Linked DNA regions of Homo sapiens. The protein of the gene in region 3 interacts with the protein of the main gene of each other region in a pairwise test. Each region holds a gene or a part of one and is shown on either strand. Other genes may lie near its edges. The genes, in order: KDELR2, CCND2 and MAP2K3.

Evidence for each region.
Region 1: the proteins of MAP2K3 (region 3) and KDELR2 come close enough for resonance energy transfer, tested with the Homo sapiens proteins (one large-scale study listed by BioGRID).
Region 2: the proteins of MAP2K3 (region 3) and CCND2 come close enough for resonance energy transfer, tested with the Homo sapiens proteins (one large-scale study listed by BioGRID).

The regions. Positions count from the first base shown.
Region 1 is NC_000007.14:6,460,518-6,463,949, reverse strand, and holds the end of KDELR2 (ER lumen protein-retaining receptor 2), read left to right. Parts: intron 1-774; coding exon 775-809; coding exon of another isoform or gene 810-984; 3' UTR 985-2,861; downstream 2,862-3,432. UniProt on the Homo sapiens protein: Membrane receptor that binds the K-D-E-L sequence motif in the C-terminal part of endoplasmic reticulum resident proteins and maintains their localization in that compartment by participating to their vesicle-mediated recycling back from the Golgi.
Region 2 is NC_000012.12:4,297,646-4,301,295, reverse strand, and holds part of CCND2 (G1/S-specific cyclin-D2), read right to left. Parts: intron 1,437-3,650; coding exon 1,287-1,436; 3' UTR 1-1,286. UniProt on the Homo sapiens protein: Regulatory component of the cyclin D2-CDK4 (DC) complex that phosphorylates and inhibits members of the retinoblastoma (RB) protein family including RB1 and regulates the cell-cycle during G(1)/S transition.
Region 3 is NC_000017.11:21,298,114-21,301,763, reverse strand, and holds part of MAP2K3 (dual specificity mitogen-activated protein kinase kinase 3), read right to left. Parts: intron 3,352-3,650; coding exon 3,285-3,351; intron 2,887-3,284; coding exon 2,838-2,886; intron 1,220-2,837; coding exon 1,106-1,219; intron 891-1,105; coding exon 771-890; intron 1-770. UniProt on the Homo sapiens protein: Dual specificity kinase. Is activated by cytokines and environmental stress in vivo. Catalyzes the concomitant phosphorylation of a threonine and a tyrosine residue in the MAP kinase p38.

The DNA.
Region 1 (3,432 bases), on a different chromosome or scaffold from region 3:
GCTGGGATTACAAGCATGAGCCACTGTGCCCAGCCTAATTTTTGTATTTTTATTAGAGATGGTGTTTCACCATGTTGGCTAGGCTGGTCTTGAACTCCTGACCTCAGGAGATCCGCCCACCTCTGCCTCCCACAGTGCCGGAAGTATAGGCGTGAGCTACCTCACCCTGCCATCCTTTGTGTTTTTTTTTTTTTTTATCTTTTTAAAGAGACAGGGTCTCACTCTGTTACTCAGGCTGCAAGAATGCAGTGGTGTGATCCTTCCTCACTGCAGTCCCAAACTCCTGGGCTCAAGTGATCCTCCCTGCTCATCCTCCTGAGTAGCTGGGACTACAGGTGCATGCCACCACACCTGGTTCTTTTTAAAATTTTTTTTTTATAGAGATGGGGTCGCTCTCACTTTTTTTGCCCAGGCTGGTCTTGAACTCCTAGCTTCAAGGGATCCTCCCACCCTGGCCTGCCAAAGTACTGGGATTACAGGCATGAGCCACTGCATCCGGCCTTTATGTTATAGTACCCAGAATTTCATAGGCCTCCCTACATAAGCTATATTTTACTATATATTGATTAGGGTGAAAGTCATAATAACAAAAAGCCACTATGAATTTAGTGGCACTTTCAATCAAATTTGTATTTTTAAAATACAATTGCTTATTTCCTATACCTTACTATGTAGAATCTTGTGTGTGGGAGACTTCTAGGAATGGGAAGAAGGAAGCTAAGTTTGTCAATATCAGTAACCTTTTGTTTTCTTTTCTTCTCTTTGAAATTCTAGTACTCAAGGGAAAGAAGCTCAGTTTGCCAGCATAAGTGCCAAAGACCATCACCAGCATCTGTCCTTCAGGGTGCTCGGACAGAATTCTTACCACAGCAAAGGCATAAGATGCTTGATACGGAAAATCAGAAACTTAACTCTTTTGTTGCAGATAGTCATCAGTGGCTCTGTAAAAACGCAGAGGAAAAGAGCCAGAAGGTTTCTGTTTAATGCATCTTGCCTTATCTTTTTTTATTACTGTGTACAAAGATTTTTTTACACAAAGAAACTTAATGCTGTATTAATAAATTCAGTGTGTAGCTTCAATTGGGATAGTTCCAAAAGTGAAGATTTTGTGAGGAATAAGTGCAAATTTTTTTTTTATTTTAAAAAATTCTTTGAAACTCTTAAGTCTTTGTGTCTGCAATGAAATTGTACTCCTTGACAGTTGATAGATTATATATTCTTCCATCCCTCAAACTTGCATTCCACTATATTTATTTTTTGGCAAAAGATGAGCTGTATTTGTTTGAAATCTGAGACACTATGTTCAATTGGATGTATCTGTTCAAATTTATTCCCACGTGACGTGGAAGTCCTTCGTTGGATGTCACAACACTACATTTAAGGTTGGTAAGGATGACTTGGAGGTCCATGGTTTTCATTACCAACATTTTAAGATTCTGAATGTCGATGGAGTCTCACTGAAGAGTCACCAAAGGTGCCTGCCCTCCTCCCCTGCTGGGAAGTGTCAGTTGGAGACTGTCCCAAGGGTGCTGAAGAATCCAGTGGCAGGGGTTCTGGCTGCTTTCCATCTGAGTGTGGGATGGGAGGGGTGTTCATGATCATTTGGATATAGCAATCTACTCTGAGAAATGGAACACAAGGAGTTACCTATCACTTTCACTTATAATTCCAAAAGATGACTACAACCATGTCCATGCTCAGATTCAAACAGTTTTCCATATCACTTTTGGGTGGTAAGATGATTTAATTACAGTTTTTTTTTTAATTGGCAGCACCACTAACCATTCCTTACATTCTTTTTTGTATGTGTGGTTTTCTTTTTATTTAACCCGCAGCCGACATCGTAGTTTCTTGTTTTGTTTTGTTTTACAGAGCTGTTGCATGACTTATGTTACCATCCTAAAAAACACTATATTAAACATGGAATAAATTGTCTTTTTATGAATTAGGCTTTTTGAACATCCTGTGTTGGGATTTTTTTGTTTTTCAATTGGCAACAAAAGCTCTGTAGGGCTGCAGACATTTAAAGTTCACATAATCATCTGTAAGACATTATGTATTTTGTGGAAATACTAGAATTTTTTTCCTGATTTTGCCATTATATGGATTTGCTATTTTTTGATTAATGCAAAAGTATATGACTTTGTTTTTTATGTGATACACCATAAATATTAAAGTGTTGAATACTAACAGTGCTGACTACAAGAAGGATGTAGTATTTTGGCTTTCTGCATTACAACGTCTTCTGGAGGAAGGGAGCAGGATGGGTTTCATTTGTATCTAGTGTGTGTCTTAACATCTTTCTAAATCGGCAGTGTAACTGCATAGTTTAACTTCCTGTCTGTCTCCCTCATTTTACTCTTCCCTCCTTGTCTTATGTTTTGGCTTTTGTGTATCAGAGCATCTTTCTTTGCAGCATCCTAGTCTTGCTTCAGTTTCTGTGGTCTCTTTTCATCCTGCTTGAAGATTCGGAGTGTGGAAGGAGGCTAGGAAGTCTGGTGCAGTAGGTGAGCAGACCTCTTGCTGCCCAGCCCAGGGTGGGTGGGGCGCACACCTGTCTTTGTGCATGCAAATCTGATACACCTGGCGCATCCTCTGGAGAGCACAACGCATGGAAAGGTCTGGAAGCTCTGTGTAGCCATTCCTTCTGCAGTCATCCTACCCAAGTAAAAGTAACCTTGGCTATGTTACCACCGTTTTGGTCACCCAGGAGGACATCTTAGCAAGGGTGCCTGCGAGGGAGTGTGGGACTGGGCCTCATCCTCGCCGGCGTTGGAAACCAAGGCCTTGTATGCCACGCCTTATGAAGCACTGTTTCACAGTTACTTTCACTTCCCGAATAAAGGTTACCAGGTAATTAATATTTTTATTGAGGTGTTTGTGTGTTTTTCAATGTAAGCATCATGAGAAATAAAGCAAAGTTCAGATATTTGCCCAGTAATGGATATAGGAAAAGCTGCTTTCCAGCCAGGCCTGGTGGCTCATGCCTATAATCACAGTACTTTGGGAGGCTAAGGCAGGAGGATCACTTAAGGCCAGGAGTTTCAGACCAGCCTGGGCAACCTAGCAAGACCACATCTCATTTAAAAAACTAGTAAAAATGAAAACTTAAAAATAATAAAGGCTTCTATCCATTGGCTCCTTAACAGAGAGAGACCAATCTATTCCCCTGTCCAGTTCAATCACAAAGAAACTTTGAAGAAGTTTCCCTGTTGCCTTATGCCCTGGCTAAGAGAAGAGCAGGTGGAGAAGTGGTTTTAATGGAGATCATAGTGATTTATGGGAACCCTTAAGTAAGAAAAGCACATGCTTTGGGCCCAGGCATGTGTTGAGGCTTGGTTCCCTCACTTGTACTCCCTGGCCCTGGACTTCACGTGAGCCTCGTTGCCTCCAGTTACATAGGTAAACTGCCAGGGATTTCTGTGTGGTTTA
Region 2 (3,650 bases), on a different chromosome or scaffold from region 3:
ATAACTTTTCTTTCCATGTCCAAAGGAGAAGTATAGAGATGGGAATTAAGATCCTTCTGTGCCATCAGAATGGTAACAGATTTTAGTTTACAGGCTTGTCTGAGGAATGTTGTGATGGGAATGTCAGCAGGAAGGGGTGTCTCTTGAGTCCTGGTAGGAACACCAGAACTGTGTACCAAAGAACGCCAGATACCAGAAGCGAAGAGTAACCCAGACTGGGGGCAGGAAGGGAGGGGGCAAAAGAGAAGAGGGGAGGAGTATTCAGCATGACTTGCATAAACCATCCCATCTATCGCTCGGGAACAATTTTTCAAAGTGCTTTTCGAATGGAATGGTTTATAACAATGCTAAACTGTGAACCAGACATGCCAATCAGCACCAAAAATTAGTTTTTTTCTAAGAAGAAATGCCAAGGCCACATTACCCTTTTAAATACAATAACAGAAAAGACTCCATTCTGGATCCCACCCTTGGTCTCCATCTGCCTCCGTTTCATGTGAGTTTTGGTTATGGCCCATAGCTACATTTCCCCATTAGATAGCAATATGGTGGTGTCTGCAATGAACTGCATTTGGAAGAAGAAGCAGGATGTCACAGAACATGAAACCCAGGAGCCAATCACCTGTGTCCAACTGGCAAAATAAAACATCTTTTTTTAGGTAGCAGCTACTGTAGACAGCAAGAGGACATTAATGTAGAGATCCAACTACACTCCTGACTTAGTAACAGGTGGCTGAGAGCAAAGGTGCTTCTCCATCCCAAATGGTTCAATCATGTTGAGAGATTGTTTTGTACTCCTTCCCCATCATGTCCCTCCTTATTTCAATTCCTTCTTGAGTTCATTGCTTTGCAATCTAATCATGCCATAAATGGCGTACACAGTTCCTTGAAATTATACTACAAGGGGGTGTATGTGCTAGCTCATAACATGAAAAAAAAAAGTCTCCTCTAATTTGTTCCCATATTGCAGGCATACATATTCTCTAACTACTCTGCAGGTTTTCCTGTAAGCATTTTACTATTACTTTTACATAATCAAACAATAACTGTTCGCATATACAAGGGATTCCCTTATGCTGTACTTCAAATAGGCACCAAATGCTTTTTATTATTCCGTTTTCGTAGGACCTTTTTCTCTCACTTCTAAAAGATCTTTAAATATGATCTAGGTGGGGGCAGAATTTTTTTTTTAAGTTTCACCCTAAAACACAAAGAACAAAAACAACCAGAAAGAAGAAGAGACCAGATTATGGACGCGTCTCTCTCTTTCGGCCCAACTGGCATCCTCACAGGTCGATATCCCGCACGTCTGTAGGGGTGCTGGCTTGGTCCAGTTCATCCTCCGACTTGGATCCGTCACGTTGGTCCTGACGGTACTGCTGCAGGCTATTGAGGAGCACCGCCTCAATCTGCTCCTGGCAAGCTTTGAGACAATCCTAGAACAATGGTCCAGACCAGAGTTGTTAGTAAGAGGAACAGGACATAGAGCATCCTACGGAGAAAACATGCGTAATTTAGCTTGCATAAGTCTGTGCTAGTTTCCAGTAGAAATAAATGTGAAGTAAAGGAGGGATGTTCTTAAAGTGCCAAGGAACCTCACTACTCCAGGTGGGGTCCATGGGCTGGCAGCATCAGCATCACCTGCGAGCTTGTTGGAACCGCAGAATCTCAGTCAACCCAGGCCGAGCTATTCAGAACCTGCCTTTTAGTGGAGCCCAGGTGATTGGCATTCTGAGAAGCACTGGCCTAAATGATGGTCACTTATGGATGCCTGGTAATCAAGGGGCCGACCAGATGCTTTCTGCCTGGGGAAGCTGGGAAGTGGCAGAGAAAAGGGGAAGGCTACTAGAAGTGCTATGACATTAGCAAACTCAGCCCGAGAACTAGATAAGAAGGAAGCCAATGAACCAACGTACTGACCCTCACATAAACTGTAAATACTTTTTCTCACTCTGTCCCCCAGGCTGGAGTGCACTGGCACAATCTCGGCTCACTGCAACCTCCACCTTCCGGGTTCAAGCGATTCTCCTGCCTCAGCCTCCCAAGTAGCTGGGACTACAGGCACCCGCCACCGCGCCTGGCTAATTTTTGTATTTTTAGTACAGACAGGGTTTCACCATATTGGCCAGGCTGGCCTCGAACTCCTGACCTTGTGATCCGCCCGCATCGGCCTCCCAAAGTGCTGGGATTACAGGCATGAGCCACCGCGCCTCACTGTAAATACTTAAAAAAAAAAATCCCCAACTTTTTCTGCTTCTTTACCATTTCCTTAACTCTCATAAAGATATAATGCAGAATGTCTACAACATTCTGGAACCTTGAGCCATCCAATTTGGGAATAAGCAAGAATATGCAGCCTTGCTTTAGTATCAGTCTATATTGTAGGGGTAATTGACAGTGTGTCTGCCCCAGGCAGGAGCTTCTCTTAGGCAGATGACATGCAATGCAATGACAAGTCATGGGTATCACTAGACAGGGACCGTTGCTGGTGCTAGTAAGAGGGTGCAAACCGTAGACTTGCTTCTAACGGGCATTTTCTAGCCTCTCTCCTCTGCAAAGGTGCCTTTGTGCACTCTCTTAAGAAGCACATACATAAGGCAAATATGTTAAATTGAACCTCCCTGTGTCTTTTCATAGTTTAATATAAACTTCCCTTTTGTTTCTTTTACTGTGCAATTCTCCCCACCCAGAGGTTTCTATTTTGCCAAGCCCAAAAGCATTCTCTTTATTTCCCAAAGATCTAAAACACAGCTGGCCAGGCATATTGGCTCATGCCTGTAATCCCAGCACTCTGGGAGGCTGAGGCGGGAAGCTGAAACCAGGAGTTCGATACCAGCCTGGACAACACAGCAAGCTCCCGATCTTTAAAAACAAACATATAAATAAACAAAATAAAGCTGGAACTAACCACTAAGGAACAAAATTTCCATACCCCTAAATTTTCCTTTCCTATCTCTCATCTATCCCACATTTCAAACTACAGCTTTCAATGAAAACTAAGATTAGGAACAACCACAGACTAAAGGCCAAAGGCAGAGACGAAATATCACCTGGAACAATGAAATGAGGAAGGGTGGTATCTGCTGCCCACCCACTATACTTGCAGGTGGCACCTAAGTTATTTAACTTTTCTGATCTCAGTTTCCCCACAAAATAATCAGAGTAAAGGGCAACTGAGATGATACTGATATATGTGCAGTGCTAAGTGGAGCTCAATAAATGATCGTGATTATGTATAACAATAAACTGGTCCTGGAACCTAAAGAATTCAGATTTCTTTGAAATGAGGTATAGATTCGCATTTAGTCAAGACTAATGAAGCGTGTGTCAAGATCCTGACAATCTTTAGTCAAGACTGTGTGTCTGGGAAGAGTGCTGAACATGACAGACGTGACGCAGCAGCAGGAGTCTCCGTGCCACCCTGAACGAGGCTGAAATGGAGTCGGGCGCTGGCCTCTGGGACTTGCTAACACCTCTCAGACGTTCCTGTGGCATCTCCTGGTTACATCCCTTACCCTTACCCTGTCCGACCTGTTGAGCTGAATGAATGACGATAAATCACATGGGGCTCACCTGCCTCATCCCTGTTCGGCTCTTCCCCAAGTTCTTCCCTCAAGGACCATGTGGCAGCATTATCCTCATAGGTTATC
Region 3 (3,650 bases):
ATGGCTCCCTGCCTGCAAGGACCTGCTCCCTCTTCCCCAGTGAACTCCTGAGGACCCTCCTGACAGGAAGGTTGGGAGATGCGCAGGGGGCACCCGCAGGCTGCAGGGGCCCCATCGGCTAGGGGCTGGCACAGAGGATGCTGAGCTCTTCATGAGTGACGAGTGAGGACAGGTGAAGCAGCCCTGACCTTGCCCGATGGCTGGACTCAGATGCCCTGACCCTGCCACAGCTCTTTGAGGGGCAAGTGACCAGTATGAGCCCAGCATCGCCTAGGCTCCCGGCCTCCCTGCTCACCCACACCCACCCGGCTTGGCGGAAGGCAGCTCCACTCTTCCAGCCTCAGTCACTCTCTCAGCACACACCCCATCCTGTCCACAAACCTAGAACCCAGAATCCAGATCTCATATCTCCATGGCCGTTGCCTGCTTGGGCACCCCACGCCCCATATGCCATTCCCACGCCCTGTATGCCATGGGGATGCGAATGGTCACACAGACAGAACTGAGTGCAGCTGAATGCCAGGCCCCAGGCCATGTCGTTTACCTTCCGTGTCAACTTTAGGAGGCACCCACAACCACCGGCCTCATTTGACTGACAAGGAAACTGAGGCACTGAGCAGGACAGTAACAGCCAAGAGACGGGGGAGCCTCCTGCCAGTATGCCAGGTGTCCCCAGCACCTGGCGTACTGGAGGGACTGAGTGACAGTGGGTTGCAGGCGACTGATGGGTGGGAGGTGGAGATCCCCAGCTGCATCATGCAAGGACGCACCTCTCTGAATAGTGCCCCGTAGAAGGTGACAGTGTAGAAACAGTCGACCGTGCGCATGTTGATGTCCAGGTCCATGAGCAGCCGCTTCTGCTCCTGTGAGTTCACGGTGGCCCGGATCCGCTGCAGGGAAGGACTGCCATTCAGAGGTTGCCGTGGCAGAGGCCAACACCCACACTCATGACAGGAGGGCCAGGAGCTCAGGGGGCCACTGCCCAGTGTGCCCCAAAAAGCCTAGCCTCGGTACTGATCACTGAGAGGGATAGGCAGGGCCCCATGGCAGAGCTCAGCCCGCCTCCTCCAGGGAGCCCTCCCAGCTGCCTCCAGGCCCTGCTCACCTTCACGGCCATGATGGTGCCGCTCTGGGCGTGCCGCACCTTCTCTACCACCCCATAGGCTCCACGGCCCAGTTCTGAGATGGTCACCAAGTCATCAGCCTCCACCTCAAAGTTCTTGAAGGATGGAAAAGAGAGTCAGTGGCCAGCAAGCTGGAAGCCAGTCCTCACCCCATGCCCAGTGGAGATACCTGGGCAGCATGAAGAGGACCAGCTGATTAGATCTGGGCTCAAACCTCATATCCACCGCTCCCTGCTGTGTGACCCTCAGCAAGTCACTTAACCTCTCTGAGCCTCACGATGCCCTCTATAAAACAGGCACAGTGCCAACACCCCAAGGCTGCTATGGAGTGTGACTGAGACAAAATGCCCCGCCAGCAGGTACAGCTCTGAGAAAGAGGTGCCCTGTCCCTCTTTTCCCGACCCCACTCAGCTGGCTAGAATGAGTCACTCATTCAGAAACTGTTTACCAAGCATCCACAATGTGTTTTAGGCACTGGGGACACAGTGACAACAAAACAAAAGTATTGCCTTCACAGATGTTTCCCTCTCTTGGGAGGGACACAAAAAGGAGTAAGCAAGTAGATGAACAGGACAGCAGATGGTGAGTGTCAGGGAGTGCGACAGCCTGGAGGGAGTATCGTCAAGGACAGGCCTAGGGAATGGGGTTTATTTTTTTTAGACAGAGTGTCACTCTCGTCACCCAGGCTGGAATGCAATGGGGTAATCTTGGCTCACTGCAACCTCCACCTCCTGGGTTCAAGCGATTCTCCTGTCTCAGCCTCCTGAATAGCTGGGATTATAGGCGCCTGCCACCACACCGGGCTAATTTTTGTATTTTAGTAGAGACAGGGTTTCACCACGTTAGCTAGGCTGGTCTTGAACTCCTGACCTCAGGTGATCTACCCGCCTCAGCCTCCCAAAGTGCTGGGCTTACAGGCGTGAGCCACCGTGCCCAGCTCTTTTTTTTTTTTTTTTTTGAAACGGGGTCTCACTCCGTCACCCAAGCTGGAGGGCAGTGGTACGATCATGGCTCACTGCAACATCCACCTCCTGGGTTCAAGCAATCCTCCTACCTCATACTCTCAAGTAGCTGGGGCCACAGGCACGCACCACCACGCTGACTAATTTTCTGTATTTTTGTACAGACAGGGTTTCGCCATGTTGCCCAGGCCTGGTCCCGAGCTCCGAGGCTCAAGTGATCCTCCTGCCACGGCCTCCCAAAGTGTGGGGATTACAGGTGTGAGCCACTGCACCTGGCCTGGGAGTAGGGTTTCTGTTGGGAGGAACGGGGCATAGCACGGTCCCTGAGCCAGGATTCTGAATGGCTAGTGCCCTTCCGAGGCTTCTGGAAGCATAAAATGCAGGTTGCCCAGGTGCTGGCCTGAGGGAGTGATCCAGCGGGTCCAGGGCGGCCTAGGAGCCTGCATGTTCAATACTCTCCCCTAGGGCTAGGATGAGGTGCAGGGCCTTGCTCTCAGCTCAGAAACCTTCCTACCAGCTCTGGGCTCGCCAAGCTCCAGTCAGGCAGCCGATGGTCCTCATTCCCACCAGGAGGGTCAAAGAGTGGGTGGCCCAGGGCCACACAGCCAGCAGCGCAGGACGAGGCTCTTCTCCAGAGCCTGACCCTCTCTGACCCCTCAGTCACCTCCCCCCAAAGTGGCCCTGCAGGGTCAGCTCTACCCGCTCGTCAGGTGAAGTGAGAGGCCCTGCAGGGGTGGCGGCTGGCACCTACTCTGTCTCCAATGGTGATGAAGGTCCGGGAGTCCAGGTTCCGGGGGGGTCTGTGGAGAAAGAAGACTCCGTGAGCTTCAGAGAGAACCACACCCTTCCCCAAGTGCAGCAGTAGATGGGCCAGTGTGGGGCCTGGCGTGGGGACGAGGTGCCTCCTGCCCCGGAGGCGCCTTCTCCGGCCACCTCCTCTCACTGGCTGCTGAGCATCTACACTGAGCTGGGCACGGCCTCATCGAGCCTCCAAGACAGGGTGAGAAGTGAGCAGAGCAGAGCAAATGGTGCTGCATGAACCCCCAGCAGCCGTCACCTGGCTGTATGCACAGCAGGGGCTGCCCAGGACAGGACGAGGTAAAGCAGGGCTGGCCCCACCTGCCTCTCACTCCTTCCATTGAGCCCTGTTCGGGAAGCCTCTCCAGGGTGAGCCAGGGAGAAACTGAGGCAGACTCACGTGGGGTTGGGTGCGGGTGGCTTGGACATGCAGGATATCCGTAGATCCTTCTTCCTCTTGGATTTTCCTAGAATGGAGAGAAGGTGAGGCGTCTGGCCTATCCCTTGACATCAATGTCCCCTGCACTCCCATGAGCCATCAGGCCCTGGCCCACAAGGGTGCCAGCCTCTGCCATCACCCATGCCGGGAGCCCCCTCTCTCCAAGCCAGGCCGTTAGGCCTTCAAAGGGGGAAGGAGGCCCACCAGCCCTGCAGGGGAGCAGAGCAGGACAGACCCAGGCCTGGAGGCTGGACTCCAGGGCCTTATCTCAGCCCTGCCCACTGGGCACATCTTGAGTACCTCCCTGGGCCTCAGTTTCCCCATCTG